Homo sapiens: one gene and its partner. The protein of the gene in region 1 interacts with the protein of each later gene in a pairwise test. Each region holds a gene or a part of one and is shown on either strand. Other genes may lie near its edges. The genes, in order: DYNLT5 and MEOX2.

Region 1 (9,158 bases):
AAAACAACCTTATTGCTGATTTGGAGAAAGTTTTAGTGGTCTGGATAGAAGATCAGACCAGTCACAAATTCTCTTAAGCCAAAGCCCAATCCAGAGCAAGGCCCTAACTCCCTTCACTTCCATGAAGGCTAAGAAAAGTGAGGAAGCTATGGAAGAAGTTTGAAACTAGCAGAGGTTTGTTCATGAGGCTTGAGGAAAGAAGCCATCTCTGTAACATAAAAGTGCAAGGTGAAGCAGCAAGTGCTGATGTAGAAGCTGCAGCAAGTTACCCAGAAGATCTAAGATCATCGGATAAGCTAAGATCATTGATGAAGGGGCTACAATAAGCAACAGATTTTCCATGTAGATGAAACAGTCTTATTTCAGAAGATGCCACCTAGGGCTTTTATAGCTAGAGAGAGGTCAATGCCTGGCTTCAAAGCTTCAAAGGACAGACTGACTTTCTTGGTAGCAGCTAATGCAGCTTGTGCCTTTAAGTTCAAGCCAATACTCATTTACCATCCTGAAAATCCCAGGGCCCTTGAGAATTATGCTAAATCTACTGTGTTCTATAAGTGAAACAAAAAAGACTAGATGACAGCACATCTGTTTTACGGCATAGTTTCTTGAATATTTTAAGCCCACTGTTGAGACCTACTGCTCTGAAAAAGAGATTCCTTTTAAAATATTACTGCTCATTGACAATGCACCTGGTCACCCAAGAGCTCTGATGGAGATGTACAAGAAGATTAATGTTGCTTTCATGCCTGCTAACACAACATTCATTCTGCAGCCCATGGATCAAGGAGTAATTTCGACCTTCATCTCATTTATTTACTTATTTTTGTATTTTTAATTGATGTATCATAGTGATACATTTTTATGGGGAACATGTGATATTTTGATACATGCATACAAAATGTGTAATGATCAAATCAGGACAACTGGGATATCCATTGCCTCAAACATTTATCTTTTCTTTGTGTTGGGGACATTAAAATTCCTCTAGCTATTTTTTTCCCCTAACCCCCACTAGCTATTTCGAAATATATAATAAATTATTGCTAACTATAATTTCCCTACTGTATTATTGAATACTAGAACTTATTTTATCTAATTGTATTTTTGTATGTATTCACCAACTTCTTTTCACCCCATAAATCTTACGATTTAAGAAATTCATTTTGTAAGGCTATTGCTGTCATAGATGTGGATTCCTCTGATGGATCTGGGCAAAGTAAGTTGAAAAGGATTCACCATTCTAGAAGCCATTGAGAACATTTATGATTCATGGGAGGAGGTCAAAGTGTCAACATTAACAGGAGTTTTGAAGAAGTTGATTCTAGCCCTCAGGGATGACTTTGACGGGTTCAAGTCTTCAGTGGAGGAAGTAACTGCAGATGCAGTGGAAATAGAAAGAGAACTTGATTTACTGTTAAAGGATACAAAATTATAGCTAGATAGGAGAAATAAGTTCTAGTGTTTTTACCACTGTAGGGTGACCATAGATGAAAATAATACATAGATTCAAAGAGCTAGAAAGAGGACATTGAATGTTCCCAACAGGAAGAAATACTAAATGTTTGAGATAATGGATATGCTAATCACCGTGATCTGATTACTATACATTATATTTATGGAAAAATCACTATGTACCCCATGAATATGCATAATTGAAATTTTCAATAAAAAACATAAAATTTAAAATGGTTAAAAAAGAAATGGAACTTGAATATGTGGCTGAATTGCTGCAATCTCATGGTAAACTTAAACAGATGAGGAGTTGCTTCTTACAAATGAGCAAAGAAAGTGGTTTCTTGAGATGGAATCTACTTCTGGTGAAGATGCTGTGAACACTGTTGAAATGACAACAAATAATTTAGAATATTACATACACTTAGTTGATAAAGGAGTGGCACGGTTTGAGATGAATGGACTAATTTTGAAAGAAGTTCTACCATGGTAAAATGCTATCAAACAGTATCACATGCTACAGGGAAATCTTTCATGAAAGGAAGAGTCCATTGATGTGGCAAGCTTTAAAATTTATTTTATTATTTCATTTCATTTTATTTTTATTTTATTTGAGATAGTGTCTCTCTCTGTTGCCCAGGCTGGAGTATAGTGGTATGATCAAAGCTCACTGCAACCTCAGCCTCCCAGGCTTAGGGATCCTCCTGCCTCAGTCTCCCAAGTACCTAGGACTACAGGCAGGTACTACTATGCCTGGCTGATTTGTTTGTAGGGAAGGGGGTGTCTCACTATGTTGTCCAGGCTGGTCTTGAACCCCTGGCTGCCGTGATCCTCTTGCCTTGGCTCCCCAAAGTGTTGGAATTATAGGCGTGAGTCACTTTGCCCAGCCTGTTGTCTTATTTTATGATATTGCCACAGCTATCCCAACCTTCAGCAACCATATCCCTGATTAGTCAGCAGATGTCAACACTGAGGCAAGGCCCTCCACTAGCAAAAAGATGACAACTTGCTGAAGGTTCAGATGATCATTAGCATTTTTAGCAATAAAGGATTTTTATACTAAGGTATGTACATTTTTTCTTTAGATAAAATGCTATTGAATACTTAATAGACTACATACAGAACAGTGTAAACAATTTTTATGTGCACTGGAAAACTAAAACATTCATGTGACTTCCTTTATTGCAAAATACACTTTATTGCAATGGTCTGGAAATAAACCTGCAATATTGCCAAAGTATGCCTGTAGTTTTTAGGTATTTTACTCACATTATTTGCTCCATTTTACTAGTAAGAGAAAGGCTATAATGGAAAGAAAAGATAATTTTCAAAAATGAAAGAGGCAGGAACATGACAAATGACACTGTCTTGTGGAACATATTTTTTTCGAGTAGAAGTGATGCTGAAGGATAAAGAATGAACCATGCAACCTGTGAAAAGCGCAGCTCTGGAGTAATTGAAGGTAATCCAGAAATGGTGATTGACAAAGTACAACAATTTTAAGTATGTGGATAGAAGATCAGAGTTAGTGTCTGAAGCCTGTTGAGCTAATGCTCATCCAAGAGCAAGGGAGGTGATAGTTAAGCACAGCTGATGAACTTTTGTTGCAGCTCTTGGATGAAATGCATTGGTTCAAAGCTGTGTCACGCTGGGCAATCATCAGAGGTGATGCTGGTAGTGCAGGTGCCATGAATACCTCTACAAAGCTGTGGAGATCATCAAGGAGGAGTGTGGCCTATTACAACAGATTTCCAACACAAATGAAACTGTTCTTTTGGGTTTTTTAAAAATAGATGCACAATGGAATGTGTCAGCATGGAGGTAAAGGTATACATTAAGAAAATCTGAACAAGCATTTTTCTATTTGCTGTAAATGCATCTTATGTCTATAAGAGGAAAGCCCCTAGTCAACCTGGACTTAACACATGCATGGACCTGTGAACCTAACTTGTTCGTGAGCAAAAGAAACTTGCTTGCTCAGGAATTGATAAAATGCAACAATTATTCATTCGATGATCACAAAATATGTACTGAGTGACTATTATATGCCAGGCACTATTTTAGGTCTTTGGGATGCAATACTGGAAAAAAAACAAAAACAAAAACAAACTATGGTCTCTGCTCTCATGGAACTGTTACTTTAGTAAGGCAAGACAGAGAATAGACAATAAAATACTAAACAAGCAAATTATATATTATGATAAAAGGTGATACATGCCTCAGGGAAGAGAAAAAATAGAGCAGGTTAAGGGAGTTTGGAAGTGGGTGGAGGAGAAGATGTGATGTGCAATTTCAAATGAAGTGGTCAAGGTAGGCCTTCATGAACAAAGAAAGGAGGTGAGGAAATGAACCACATGGATGGCTGAGGGAAAGGTATACTAGGAAGAGAGAACAGCACATGCAAATGCTTTGAGACAGGAGGCTGCTAGTGTGTTTGAGAAAATGCATAGAGACAAGTAGCAGAGGGAGGAAGAAGAAAAGGAGTGAAAGAAGATAAAGTTGCAAAGGTATCAGGTAGCTAGATCATGTAGGGCTTTGTGAGCCATTATTCTGTAAGCTCTTACTCTGATAAAGCAGACACACCCCTGTATTTTCTAAAAACCATTAACTTTCTTTGCCAAATGGCGATATCAGGTTTTACTCTCACATGCCTTGCCAACATTTGGTATTATTCTCTTTTCTTCTGTTTTGCCATTTGGATGGGTGCAAAATGGTATTTTGTTTTAATTTATATTTTTTCTGCTTGAAAGTGAGTTTTAGCACCTCTTCATATTCTGCTTAGCTATTTGGGCTTTGTTTCTGAAAATTGCTGTCTTCTTTGACTATTTTAAAAATTGTTTTCCTAGCATAAGTTGTTAATGTACAGGGTTTAAAAAAACGTGTATGTATCTTCAGCCAGCCTATTAATTATGTCTATTGTATCCTTTGTTGAGCAGAAGCCCTAGATTTTATTGTGGTTATATTTATCCAAAAATTATTTTGCTCTATGGTGTGAGTTTTCATTTTGGGATCTTCTTTCAGAAATCTTTCCTTACTCCTAGAACATAAAGATATGGGCCTGTGCTTTCTTCTCTTAGCTTTGTTAATAGATTCCCACATTTTGGTCTTCCATCTGGAGTTTACCTATGCAAAGCATATAAGGTAGGAGGCCAGCTTCATTTTCCTCCCTATAATGAGCCAGTTTTCTGCCAACACAATCTATCATTTCCCCATTTACAAACATAAATGGGGATAAAAATATCTTGTCTGTTTAACTTACACAGATATTGTATGTGAAATGGCTTAATAACCTAAAATGACAATACAATATTAGTTGTTATTGTGGTTTCATTTGGAAACATGGCCATTTCAGTTTTCCCAAACTATTTTCTCTTTTTGGGGGAGGCTATATCTCAGGTAGGTCTTGTTGGGGGCTTTAGTTTAACATACATGGTGATACAACTTATCTCCTAACTCTGATCTTCTAATCTCTAGCCTTCTCCTTCAGGTATCAAAATGAAGAAATTGTTCTGGCAGCACCATTTTCAATTGCCCGTAAACAGCTCACAGTAGTATAGATTGAATGATAGAATAAATTCATTACTGTTGAAATGAAGTAATGAATGCAATCATTTCCATTTTGGTCACTTTTACTGGCAAGACCTAGACAATGTGAAAAAAGTTACCAGGCAGCTCTCAGTTTCCCTGAAAAATGAACTTATCTAAATTAGAAACCTGTAGTTATTCACCTTTATATGCCTAATATGTGGCACAGTAATTGGCACATAGAAGCTAATAAATCCTGAATAAATGAAGAAATACATATAGTGTGGCCTAACTGGTATGTTAGATGCCATCAGTGGGTTCACACGGGGAGCTGTGGGATCCATACAGAAAGTTCTGGTAACATGACATCACTGTAATTTTGGTTTGAGGCAAAGGAGAGAATGTTCAGCCCCCAACCTTGTCCCTAATCTACTAGTGGAACTCCTGGCCTCACAGATAACAAGCCTAGACATCATGTCACATGATCCTGTGAAAGTAACTTGACCTCATAGCTTCTGTTTCCATTTTAAGGAAATGAGAGAAGCACATCTGTTCAAACACTGTTCAGTGTCTGCCAAAGTCTGAGCTTCCAATAAGAAAGATGTAATTGTAAAGACCTGCTCTTACTGTGGACGGGAAACAGAAGGTTCTGGTGAATGAACAGAATAGTTTTATTAATGCAAATCACACATGGATTGCCAATTTTCAGGAAATGAAAATACTCAACTAATAAACAAAAGCCCATTTTTGCTGCTTGTTAATTCTGTAGCTTTGGAGCCTCAATCTCTCTAAGCTTCTGCTTCTTCATTTGTCGAATGGGGGAGATAATAACATCTATCTTTATAGAGCAGGAGTTGGCAAACATTTCTGTAAAAGGCCAAATAGCAGATATTTTTGGATTTGCAGGCCCTACGGTTTCTATTGTAACTACTCAACTCTGCTGTTACAGTGCGAAAGTGGCCAGAGACAACGCACAAGTGAATAGGAATGGCTGTGTCCTAATAAACTTTATGCATATAGAGATTTGAATTTCTTGTTATTTTTACATGCTGCAAAAAAAACTGTTCCCCTTTTGATTTTTTTCACCTATGTAAAAATCGTATTTAGCAAAACAGATGCAGATTGGAATAGGCCCTTGGGTCATAGTTTGCCAACTCCTATTATGGAGCTTCTATGATACATAAATAAGGTTCATCGCAAGGGCCCTATAAATGTTAGCTATTATCATCCTTATTATTATAAATTGTTCAGGTAAAAAATAATTTGAAATTACAGATGGAGTATGATGACCACTGTGTAGTGTACTGTCTGGACTCAGACAGCATGGGTCTGATATATGTATGTCCAGGTCTAACAGAAATATGCCAACACACTAACAGTTAGGATAATAAGATCCAGCTTAAGATGTTTCTGTTTTTTCTTTAATAAAACATAAAAATTACATTAAATTGAAAAGATAACTTAAAAACAGACCCAATCTTGAAAACAGTTCACAATAATATTTAATATAAATTTAATCTTCTTTTTGTAATTCAGAAGGCATTTCAGATATTTATTCTGTCTGGGGATCATTGTTAAGCATTAGTTACAACTGTGGAAGACTGTAGACATGGAAACCAAGACTGTAGGGCTAAATCTGTGCTGATCTTATACCACATATAAGAAGCAGCTTTTCAAGGAGGTCTACCTTTACTCTTCATGTCCTCCTTATAAGTGTGGTTACCGCTAAAAAGACAAATAAGTCCATAGTCTGTTGAAAGAGATAGACAAGCAAATCACCAAATATAGTGCATATCGAAGGCAAAAGCAGTAGGAGAAGAAAGGCAGATCATCCAATGCAGTCTGGAGGTAAAGGTGGTCATAGATGAGTAATTAGAGAGCACTTCCCAAAAAGGTGGAGATGGAGCGAAATTCTGATGGAAGAAGTGAAGAAAGCCAGGGGAATAGTGTAAGAAGAGCATTGCAGGCAAGGAGTCGGGGTACCCCATGGGGAAGCAACATGGGGCAATGGCTGGGGGCCAGATAGAGCACTGAGGAATAACTGAGTATAGCTGGAGGGGATGATGCCCGCAAGATGGTGGGGAAGATGGTGCTATGGAAGTAGATAGGGGTCTGTGGACTTTGTATCTCATAGTCAGGATTTGGGACTGTATCCTAATCATTAAGTCAAATTACTTGACCTGTAAACTTTAGTTATTTCATAGTAAAGTGGTAGAAATGATGCCTACCTAGTAGGATTAATGCGGGGGAGATTCAGTGAGATAATGTATTCAGTCCTTAATAAACTTCAGAATGTTTTACATTATTGAAATTTATATTTTCAAAATTGTTTTAAAGTAATTTTCAAATGAAAGTTATATGTTTTTCCATAAAACACTGCAATTTCAAAACAATGCCTGTATTTGATAGTCACTAAGCTTTCAGAATTTTTCTACTAGTTGAAGCCTCATTCATGAAGGAGAATAACTTGTACTGTCTAATTCCAGACAGTGAGGAAGCCAATGGAAAGCAAGTATTAATACAAGTTAGCATGGGGTGGGGGAGCCTCCTAAATAGTCTGCATTGCAAGGGGACTTGGAAGCTGATCATTTGCTATTTAAGAAAAAAAGTACAAATAGAGGTTCCATTCTAAATGTTTTGTTTGGGAGTCCAAAACCAAAATAGTTATCATTTAAATGTAGTTGTCAGTGAAAAATCTATCCTAATGTGTTGATAAATATGATTTTTGTATTCTTATTTTTAATATGTATTTATATTCATCAATAATAGGTTAAAAAGAGTGATCTCTAATTCTTCAAATGTAGCCACACTCTGATTCTATATGACAAATTTGTTTTGAAGGGGAAAAGATAAGTAAAAGTCATGCAAATAGGAATTACAATTTAATCTTTGGAGACAGTATTTAAAAAAATATCATGGGTACGTAATTTATGTCAGACTATTACTTAAATAGTTTCTTGGAAAACGTAAGTTGAATTTAAGCCAACAATCAGTTTTAAATAATTTAAAAAATAACCCTTGCACTTAACTATTGGAAATAGCAGCCAGAAAAGTTTAGAAGCAAAAATTACAAAGATTAATCATTCTCCCACCTTTACTTCTGACATGTGCTGGGATTGCTACTCCTTTATAGTCAGTTTCCCACCTGTAAAAGGCATTGTATGTGTAATCCACAGACTTCCAGGGCTGGAATGTGGAGTTGCAAGTAGGCATTAATACACTCTGAGAATAGAAAGATTTTGGTTTCAGAATTCTAATTATTCCAGTTCTTCTACTCTCTGTTCTGCAGGACACCCTAGCTCCTGCTTCCCAATATATACTCAATATACAACATCCTCCAAAGCTATAGAAACTAAGAACGAAAGTCTATTATTAATTGACTGCTACGTCGATAATTTGTTTTGTTTTCTTCCCAACAGCAGTCAAAAGGAAATGCCATGAAAATATTAAAAATTGATGTATATCTTTAGGAGAGAAGATGCAACATGTAGCAAGAACCAAAAAATCTACTTATTGCCCTTTGACCTACTAATTATTCTTCTGGGAAATGACCAAGCACAGACATATAGTAAAAAAGAAAAAAAATGGAAACAAACTTAAAGTGTCCAATAATTAGAGAATGGTTAAGGAACCCAGAATCATAAATTGACAAAATATTATGCAGTCATTTAAGAGGATATGGAAAAAACTATGAAAATACATGACAAAATTATATACAATAATGTTAAGTACATTGTATATGTATGTATTGATTACAAAAATGCAAAACCTATGTTATAAAATATTGAGGAGAAGAACTCAAAAGACATATAAGCGTGTCTGGTTTACATTGCATGTGGTGTTTCTTTTGAGCAGAGGGTTTTTTGGGATGATTTTTGAAATAGCAAAAATGCTGCTAGGATTAACTTATCACTTAAGCTTTCTCTCTTTCTCTTTCTTTTTAAATATGGCCCCTAAAGATGACCTGCACCTTGTACTTGCCCATTTTATCTCTTTTTATGTCCCCGAGGAAGTGTTTTTTTCTCCTAATAAACATTACGAACCTATTTATTCAATAAATGAATTTACAATTTTAGACAGTTACTCACTCTTTGATGCGCCCATGAATTTCCTTTCGCCAAAATTCATGATTACTTAGAGAAGAAATACTCCCTCTTTTCTTCCATGAATGAGCTGCTCTG
Region 2 (9,158 bases), on another chromosome or scaffold:
AAATAGATGCTCACACTGGAAGAAAGACGAACCTTAATAGTACATGTCCATGTGGTGTAAGCTAATTACAGAACCTAAGTTTCAAAAGTGGAAAATAAATCCCTCTACCAAGTGGGTATTAGTAGAGACAAATACTGCGAAGCAACAGCAACTCGGGTACTGTTAGTTAGATACGTGTCTAAAGGGGTATGCAAGGGTGCGCGCAGGAGGCGCTGATTTCAGTGGGGATAATTTGAGCAGCCATGCAAAAGGGGAACCTTCCTGACCTCTGGTGCTTGAAGGCACAACGTGCCGAATAAATTGTAGCAATCCAGAGAAACTCAAAGTTTCCAGACAAGTTTTCAAAGCTCTTACCTACCTGTATTTTTATAAAATTGTTAAAAGATACTTTAAAATTAAGAGACTTGTGAGTTTTCTTTCGTGGGTATAGTGCAACCTGGATTAAATACTTTTGGAAGGTGTCATTTGTTTAATATAATATTTGCATATTTTTCTTCCTCTGTGGAATTGGGTTAATAATAGTCCTAGAAGGTAATCCCATATGTTGGTTTGAAGGATTGGAAAAATGTTGATCGTGTGTAAAGCTTTAGGTAAGATGCCACATAAATGAAAATGATTGGCCGCATATTTAATATTCCTTCACCATTCACAGCAATATCAATTGTTCTTCAGCGTTACTATAGGATGGATTCTTCTCTCACGGTCTCAAAAGCTAACTTTTATTTTCCAAGGTCAGGGGGTGAACTTTTAATGTTCCATCACAAATTAGTTTTTATAAGAAAATTACCAGTAGTGTCACTGATATTTAATGTATTTTCCTAACTATAAGTGAAACTCTCTTTAGATAGTGAGTTGAAAGGTTAATCATAGCAAAAAGGTTTCAATTTTTATTAGAAAAACAGTCGATTTTAGAATGCAGTGACAATTTCATAAACTGAACATTTGATATCAGTGTAACTTTGGAAGCAGATCCCAGTTCGGGTTGATGAGCGTACTCTTGCAATTCCCATAAGCTCTTACGGTTCATTTTATTTCTTGCAATGAGAAACCTACATGATAGATTGTTCTTCATGCTTCCTGAACTGAGCCATTGCCCTTAAGTTTCTCAGGGCAAACAATTTTCATACAAGCACATGTTATTTTGTTTGGGGAAAACTGAGAAAACGGAATTCAATAACTGATTCCCTTAATTTATTTTAATAATTTTTTTAAAAAATGGAATAATTTAACAAAACTAATTTATCTCTCCCCCCCAACTTAGTGGGAAATAACCATTTAACAAAATTAAATTCATTTCTACATTTTGAAGCTGATAATGAGGGTACTGGAAAAACAAGCAAATATAAGTGTTTGTGTCAGCTACATAAATTATTAACAGATTAAAACTTCAGTGGAAAGTACAATTAGTCATCACCAAGGATAAAAATACTGGGGATTTAGAATGAGCTTTTCTTTCCTTTGATATGTTGAAGAAATATTGACTAAAAGGAAAATCACAATAGTTTCTGTTTAAATCTATGTACACTTATTGAAAATAAAATTTTATTTGCCAATTTCAGCTGAAGGTATATTTGTCAGATATTGAGATAGATTTAAATTAAAGATATCTTTCTCGTGTAACAATTGCATTAGGTGTTCCATAAATTATCTTCAAAGATATTTTATTTCATAGACATCTTGATCTAGCACAAACTAAAACAATATTGAAAATGATTATGATCCTGGTATGCTATTAATACGTATATCTCTCATTGCTTATAGCACATTTTAGTATTTCAATATTTCTAAAATATAAAATTGAAGTGATTTCGGAACTCCTGAAATTTAAAATTGTATTAGATAAAAATGTCATCCTATATAGTGAGATCATTTGTATTTTGTTAGGTAGTTTATAATTACTTTGCATTTATGGTTGAGAGAAAATTCAGTACATAAATCCAGGGTAAAGTCAGGACCAAAATTCTGTATCCCTGCATCTAATACTTAGACTGTATGTGTATGTGCTAATTCTAATTACCGTGTTAAATTCTAATAGAATTTTAAGCACCAGAAAGTATTGAAAAACAGCTTAAATATTTATAAACCTTACAATTTTATTCATAGTAACGATTTAAAACTATAATACGTAAGCTTCTCTAGCATATATTTTATGCACTTTCCCTCCACAAATGCACATGGACACACACATATGCAAACTCTAGCAGCTTCATGTTTTGGAAGCAAATATTTATGGACTTTAGGCTTCCTTTATGTAAGTTTATTGACAATTGAAAATAACCAAATTTAATAGAAAAACACACCATTATATTTTATATGTGTTAAACATTTTTGTAACTTTGAACCTGCTACGCTTTCCAGCATTATTAGCAAAGCCAACATCTGCCACGTCTTCAAAGGGACTCTTAAAAATCAAAACTTTACAACTGCTGAAAAAAATCACTACAAAGCAGGTGATTCTGAAAAATGTCTATAAATAGTGTGAATTGCTTGGCTTCAATTACATTTGGTTGCTCTTTGAGCAATCTAGTAGTAGGAATAAACTGCCCAGTTTTAGTTAAAATAACTAAAATTAATTCATTGATCGAACTTTAGCTTTTGTGCATGGTTATACAGTGTACATATCTAGATATTTTCTATTCAAATTTATGATACATATTTTATAAAAAATAGAAATTACATCAAAAAAGAAAAGAGCGATTTGGGGAGGTAGACTTTACTAGGTTTTGAATCATATTAGATTCTTGTAAAATTACAAATATTTTATTTATAGCTACTATGTCATAAAACCTTTGCTGTCAAATTATGTCTGTCTATATGCTTGACTATGCAGAATGACTAGCAAATATTACATTTAATAAGTTGGAACTTAAACTCAGAGTAATACCTTATCAACCTCATTCAGTATGATATTGTAATATTTCCAAGATATTTCAATCATTGTGTTTTCTGAAAGGAATAAATTAGTGTTATTATTCATTTCTGTGTTACTGGATTGTGGCTTTTCAGCATTTGCTTTAGAATTTAAAAAATAATATACTGGATCTTGAAGATTAAAGTGAAGTATTGAACAAATCAAATGGAGTACAAAAAAAAACTTCCATTCTTTATCTTGGACTGGTAGACTAATTTTAGGTGTGAACATTTAAAAATGGTAATCTGACATAAAAAATTCTAAGTATCATTGACCTACATGAGGGCTCTAAAATGTGATCTAAAATAATCACACTCAAGTTAAAAGCAACAATTCCTTTAGAATTAAAATGCTTTATTGTTGAACATTAGCAATGAATGGAAGGAAGAATGCAAATAAAAGTAGGAATAGTTTCCAATTCTGTGTAAATTTCTTCATTTATAGTTCATTTTAAAAGAAAAATCATAAATGCAAGGCATGGTATTGCACAAACTTTCACCGGGCTTAGAAATCCAGAACTTAGTATTTAAAGTTTTAATCTTTGTTTATGGTAATTATCAATAGAAACCTTTACAATGACATCTTATAAGCTGATCTTTACTAATAAACTGAAAAAACAGTACTTCAGTCATTACCCCATTCTCCCTCTGTGTTTCAAAACATAGACCGTTCATTATAACTCTGGAATTTAAGTTGTAATATTTATAATAAAATCTAAACATCCTAAGAACTTAATTTTAAGCAAAAATGAAATATCAGAAAATGTCAATCCTTTCTCTTAGATTCTGAGAAATTTGGGAGGTGAATTCCATATGTAATGAAATAATTACATTTTTTTTTGCACTTAAGAAATGTAAATCTATAGATGAATTAATAGCTGAATTATGTAAAACATCACCATATATAAGCCCACTACATGTACTTAGCCTGATAATGCTGCCTTGCTTGCGAAATTTTATTCATTTAGTGTTTTTATAATGGCAGCTTGACACACACAACCTAATATGAAGGTTTTTTAGATTTTAATTTCAAATGAGAAAAACCAATATAATACAGCAATATATTTTAGTTTTGAACTGTATTCACCTCAGGAATTTATTTCTAAATTTTCAGAGCAAATCTCTTTTCCAAGCACTGCTATGAGGGCTGCAAATATCTTTGAGCGATAAATACTAAGGATGCAGAAATATTAGAAAATAAATTACAGGTAGGAATTTCTTAAATAATATCTGTTGAATTAATAGTTGTGGATTATTTATCTCACCCAAATTTTCTTTATTTTTCTCACTTTTTTTTTTGATAAATGAAACATTTTGTGCAGGAAGATATATAAGCATTTCCCCCCTTGATTGTAATAATAAAAAGAGAAGGCTTAATTCTCAACTGGCCAGTTACATTGTATTTCCTGGCTTATAGTATTGGTAAATGATTTCAGTGGTTAAAATCAAAAGCAAAAAAATAAAATAAAACACAAACTAAGGCCAAAGTCCACAGATTAAAAATTGAAGTAGATGTGATTTATTTCCTATTTAGCATATTTAAGAAACAAGACACATTTTGTAGTCACAATTTGTTTCTACATATCATGTGCTTTAGATGTTAATATGGTTTACTGACATACATGTTTTGTAAAGATTGTAAATATAATGAGGCACTAACATTTTGCCTACTTTCCTTAGGATGCTCTCATGACTATTTCTTTTACTAGCGTGTTGAACTGAACCCCCAAGTAGAAAAGGAGTAACGGTGTAAAGTAAAGTTAGTTGCAAAACTCTCTACATTACTCCTAAATCACAGTCATCAGTGAGATTCAAAATCCCATTGGAGAAAACCTCGCAGAATATTTTATGTGTTTTAATGTAGTAAAACTTAGAATGGTCAAGAACATATAGGGCTCAGCCTACAATTTGCGTTAGAGGCAGAATTAATCTAAATCTGATGCCCATTTCTCTAACAGTTCTTCCCGTTTTACTTACATTATAAAAATATTGAATTTTTTAAAGAATGTTGTACTAGATAGTATTTTATGATACAAAATAATCAATAATGTATCTATTGATCCATTTGTGCTCATCTCAGATGTTGTTTTTATGTTTCAGAATAAGTATTTTCATTTAAAATCTCTTGACATTATTTATTACCAAATTAACAGAAAGTTACATGGTAAGTGTATGATCGAATGGGTTATTAATTTTCATGGGTCATGAGTGGGTTTTTAATTTTCCTCTATATTTGAAATTTTTGATATATAATTTCCGGAATAATAAGTAGCTCATTATTCCTGAAGCTTTCATTTATAATGTTACTTTGTGTACAGAAATATAATATTTCTAAATTTATATATGTTACTCACTACTAATTGTGCACTGTATTTTTAAATATTGGTTTTCACAGTGTTATGAAAATAATTTACATTTTTTTGGTTTCTTACATCACCATATGCACAAGAATGATCAGGTAGAATCCGTACTGTATCTATACATTTTTGGAAAGGGTTTGTATGAAAGATAGAAAAACCCTTTCAAAAATAATCCCTTGTTTTATCAATAGAATTAGAAATTAATAAACTGGATCATTAACTTGTATGATAATATTGTTATTTTATTTTTAAAATTTCCATTTATTTAAATGTTTAATAATTCTAAAATGTTTGTGTACCTTGATGACAATTCTTATGTCCTTACAATGTGTACTTTTATTGCAAATATAACATATTTTTACTAGGTAGTAACTCAGTGGTAAAAACTTTAGGGTACTGATTATAGCTCTAAATTCAAAAGCTGTTGCTCTTCAAAATTTTGTAGAATCAATTCAATGTGAATGTTTCAAATGTATTTAAGTATTCTGCTGTTTGTGTTCATAAGCTTTCTTTCTAAGATGTTAGACGTATGTTTCTTAAAGCTTGCATAGGCTACATTGATTAAAATTATGATTATAAGCTGCTTACTTTCATAGTTTTTTGTTTTTATTGTAGTCTAGTAGAGAGGACAATGGCAAGGAAAGGATAAAAGGGAGGGTGCTGAATTAACTAGGACATGGAAGCTATACTTAAAACACACGTTAAAAGAAGGCGTTTACTTTATATATGTATATACATATATAGGTATATGCACACTCACACCCACACATATATATGCATGCATTACTGTAACTCCAAATTTAATTTCCTGATAATAGTAAATCTGAATTAGAGCATCCTTATTAAATGCATAATATGATTATAAATGTTCCAATTACAAAATTAAATATTAAGCTTGAAGCATATATAGTTTTGTGAAGAGTCCAGCAGGCTTAAGCTGGCAATCAATGATAGTTATAAAAGTCCCTGCAGTTTTTGTTTTCTTTTGTTTTTCCTCTTTATTTAGCTCATTATTCTTCACACACTTCAAGAGAATCCCATAATGCTACAAGGAAAAAACAAATTCGCAGTTATCTTACGTGACTGTGGGCAAGAAAATGACTAAGGTGAAATCATCTGTCAGGCTCCGCAAAACCTAGAGGAGGGTCCAGCTTAGGTTGGCAGATGCCAGTAGAATTTTAAAGGCCTAGAATTTTACTCTTTGAAAATATAGCCTTAAATTTTTGCCAGAAATGACACCCAAATGAAAACTTATTTTTGCAAAGTGATAGTTATTTGCAAATGCAGTAGTGAAATATATTCAGAGTCTGTTGAGGTAGCTTGTCCACTGTCTGGACTGCACAGTAAACATTTGGATGGTTATTCTTAGCCACCCAAAAAACTAGCAAACTAAACTGAGGTGTATTCTTATTAGTTGAAAAGATTAAATGGGCATGCCTCTTATCAAATTAACAATGAATGCAAAGCAAATTTTGCAAATCATTGATTTATGTTGGTAGGTAACACAAACAGGAAACTATTCAGAAAAATAAATATGTGTTATCCGAAACGTAATGGGGACTAGCTTGGTTTTGTAGAACAACAGCAATTTAGCAAATAACTTTCACATTTAAAGAACCATATAAATAATGCTTTAGCACTCACTGCATAGGTTGGAATCAAGTGATGTCTTATTTAATATTATTCAAAGATAAAATGAGGTCTTAGTATGTGTAGTGCCTTTAACAATTAAAATTTTCTCACCTATAGGCTATGCTTACGTGGGAATTTCTTTTTCTTATTTGAAGTATAAACAGATCTGGATGCATTAAACTAGACAGAATGTAGATGTAAAAATGATTGAGACATATTAAAATGACAGGAAAGTCAGAGTTTAGGCATCCCTATTTGGAGGCTTGCTGCCACCCATGTTTCTAAGATTACAGTCTTGTGAATGTCCACACTCAAAATTCAGGGAATTATAAATAATTTTTCCTCCAGAACTATTCTTTGCTCCTGGAAGTAGAGCTGTATAATTTATTTTCTAGAATACCCAGATGTTTAGGAAAGTATAAGTAAGTGGCAACACTTTTGCATATTTAGCCATTAGTTGATAAATCATAAAAGATTTATCCTATTTCTTAATTATCATATTAGACAAGGAAATAGATGTCACACTCAAAGGGATAATTGAAGAGAGTTTGATGATGGCAATTTGATGGTGAGTAGAATGTAGGGAAACCACAGGAAATGATGAATCCCCCAGGGTCTGTCCACAGTTGGAATATATTAGCACCCCTAACCTGAGAGGGTAAATGCAGGGACCTCTTACCAGAATCCAATGAGCGCAACAGGACAGAAGCCTTCTGGAAAAGTTGGGACCTCAGATGGAGGATTGCAGCTCATGTCGAATATCATCCAGTAACCTGTCTTCATGTCCTCCAATCTTCTTTTGTTGCTTCCATTGATCAAACACTATCCGAAGCCAGAACCCCGGAGGGTTAGGTGGATGCAACCCTAAGAGTCAACCGAAGAAGAAATGAGGCAAGCATATCTGGGAGAACACAATAGTTAGGGCTAAACCCCCGCTGTGTCTCTTACTATTGTCACCTCTTGGCCACAAATTTAACTTTTCTCTACCATCGTTTCTGAAAAGGAAATTGAGTTAATATACACAAAGCAATTAGAACAATGTCTGGCTTAGTAAAGTGTCAGTTATTATTTTTATCATCTATCAATGAATGTACAATTATGTAATGCATATGCACCATCTGAAAATAATCTATTTTATGCTACCTGTTTGCATTTTATTACAAATACTGCTATAGGAAATGTAACTTGCCTAAGTAATTACTAAAGATTTAAAATAATCATTGTCCTTAGAATTGTAAACGGCATGAAATTTCCCTGAAATGTAAGGTGAATTCTAGCCAAGTTATGTAAGAGGCTCAAGTTGCCTTTCCCACCCTTAAGATTTCCATTCCACAGCCTCTTTTACTTGGACCTCTCCTAACTTCCTCTTCTCTTGGGTCTCCTGCTACTTCTCCATTGAAAAGCTGTTTTCAGGAAGAGTGCATATTGAGCAAAATAAAGAATAAAATGAGGACTCTTTTTTTTTTTTTGAGACCGAGTTTTGTTCTGTTGCCCAGGCTGGAGTGCAGTGGCGCAATCTTGACTCACTGCAACCTCTGCTGTCCGGGTTCAAGTGATTCTCCTGCCTCAGCCTCCTGAGTAGCTGGGACTACAGGCGCCCGCTAATTTTTATATTTTTAGTAGAGACGCGGTTTCACCATGTTGGCCAGGCTGGTCTCGAACTACCTACCTCAAGTGATCTGCCCACCTCGGCCTCTCAAAGTGCTGGGATTACAGGTGTGAGCCACCGCGCCCGGCCAGAACTTAACTTTTTAAAAGGAGTGTACAGAGGGGCAGGGCATTTAGTCAAGAGGAAACAGAATTTAAATAAAAGGAATTCAAATATGACAATGAAATTTTGGGTCTCTGTTTTAGCTGTTAACTAGGAGGGTGGGAATGACATTTTCCTGCTATGTTAGAAACTTTATTGCAGAGAGAATTTTCTTATTGTTGCTCTGTTATTTTTAGCAGTTCCAGTTGCAGACCCTTAGGAATGGCAAATGTGCAAATATTACTAAAAGCTGAAAACATGTATGTCCCACACAAAATGCATGAACAGAATTTTATTTTGGTGATATAATTTCTTTTTACAAAGAACATATTTTAATTATTTGTTTGTTCACATTTGCATATTTAATACGTTATTGAGAAATATCACTTAGATAGAGATAAAAGAGAACAACAAACCCCTGGAATTGCAAGTCCTGGGTGGTTGACTGCGTTGACTCAGTTTAGTCACCTCTCCCACATCCATAAGGCAGTGTGCAGAATTCAGAC

The links.
Region 2: the proteins of DYNLT5 (region 1) and MEOX2 interact in binary tests that used the Homo sapiens proteins (3 or more experiments, as listed by UniProt).

What each region holds. Positions count from the first base shown.
Region 1 is NC_000001.11:66,754,685-66,763,842, reverse strand, and holds part of DYNLT5 (dynein light chain Tctex-type 5), read right to left. Parts: coding exon 9,066-9,158; intron 8,200-9,065; exon of another isoform or gene 8,191-8,199; coding exon of another isoform or gene 8,123-8,190; intron 1-8,122.
Region 2 is NC_000007.14:15,676,071-15,685,228, reverse strand, and holds part of MEOX2 (homeobox protein MOX-2), read left to right. Parts: intron 1-3,248; exon of another isoform or gene 3,249-6,315; intron 6,316-7,581; exon of another isoform or gene 7,582-7,766; intron 7,767-9,068; exon of another isoform or gene 9,069-9,158. UniProt on the Homo sapiens protein: Mesodermal transcription factor that plays a key role in somitogenesis and somitogenesis and limb muscle differentiation. Required during limb development for normal appendicular muscle formation and for the normal regulation of myogenic genes.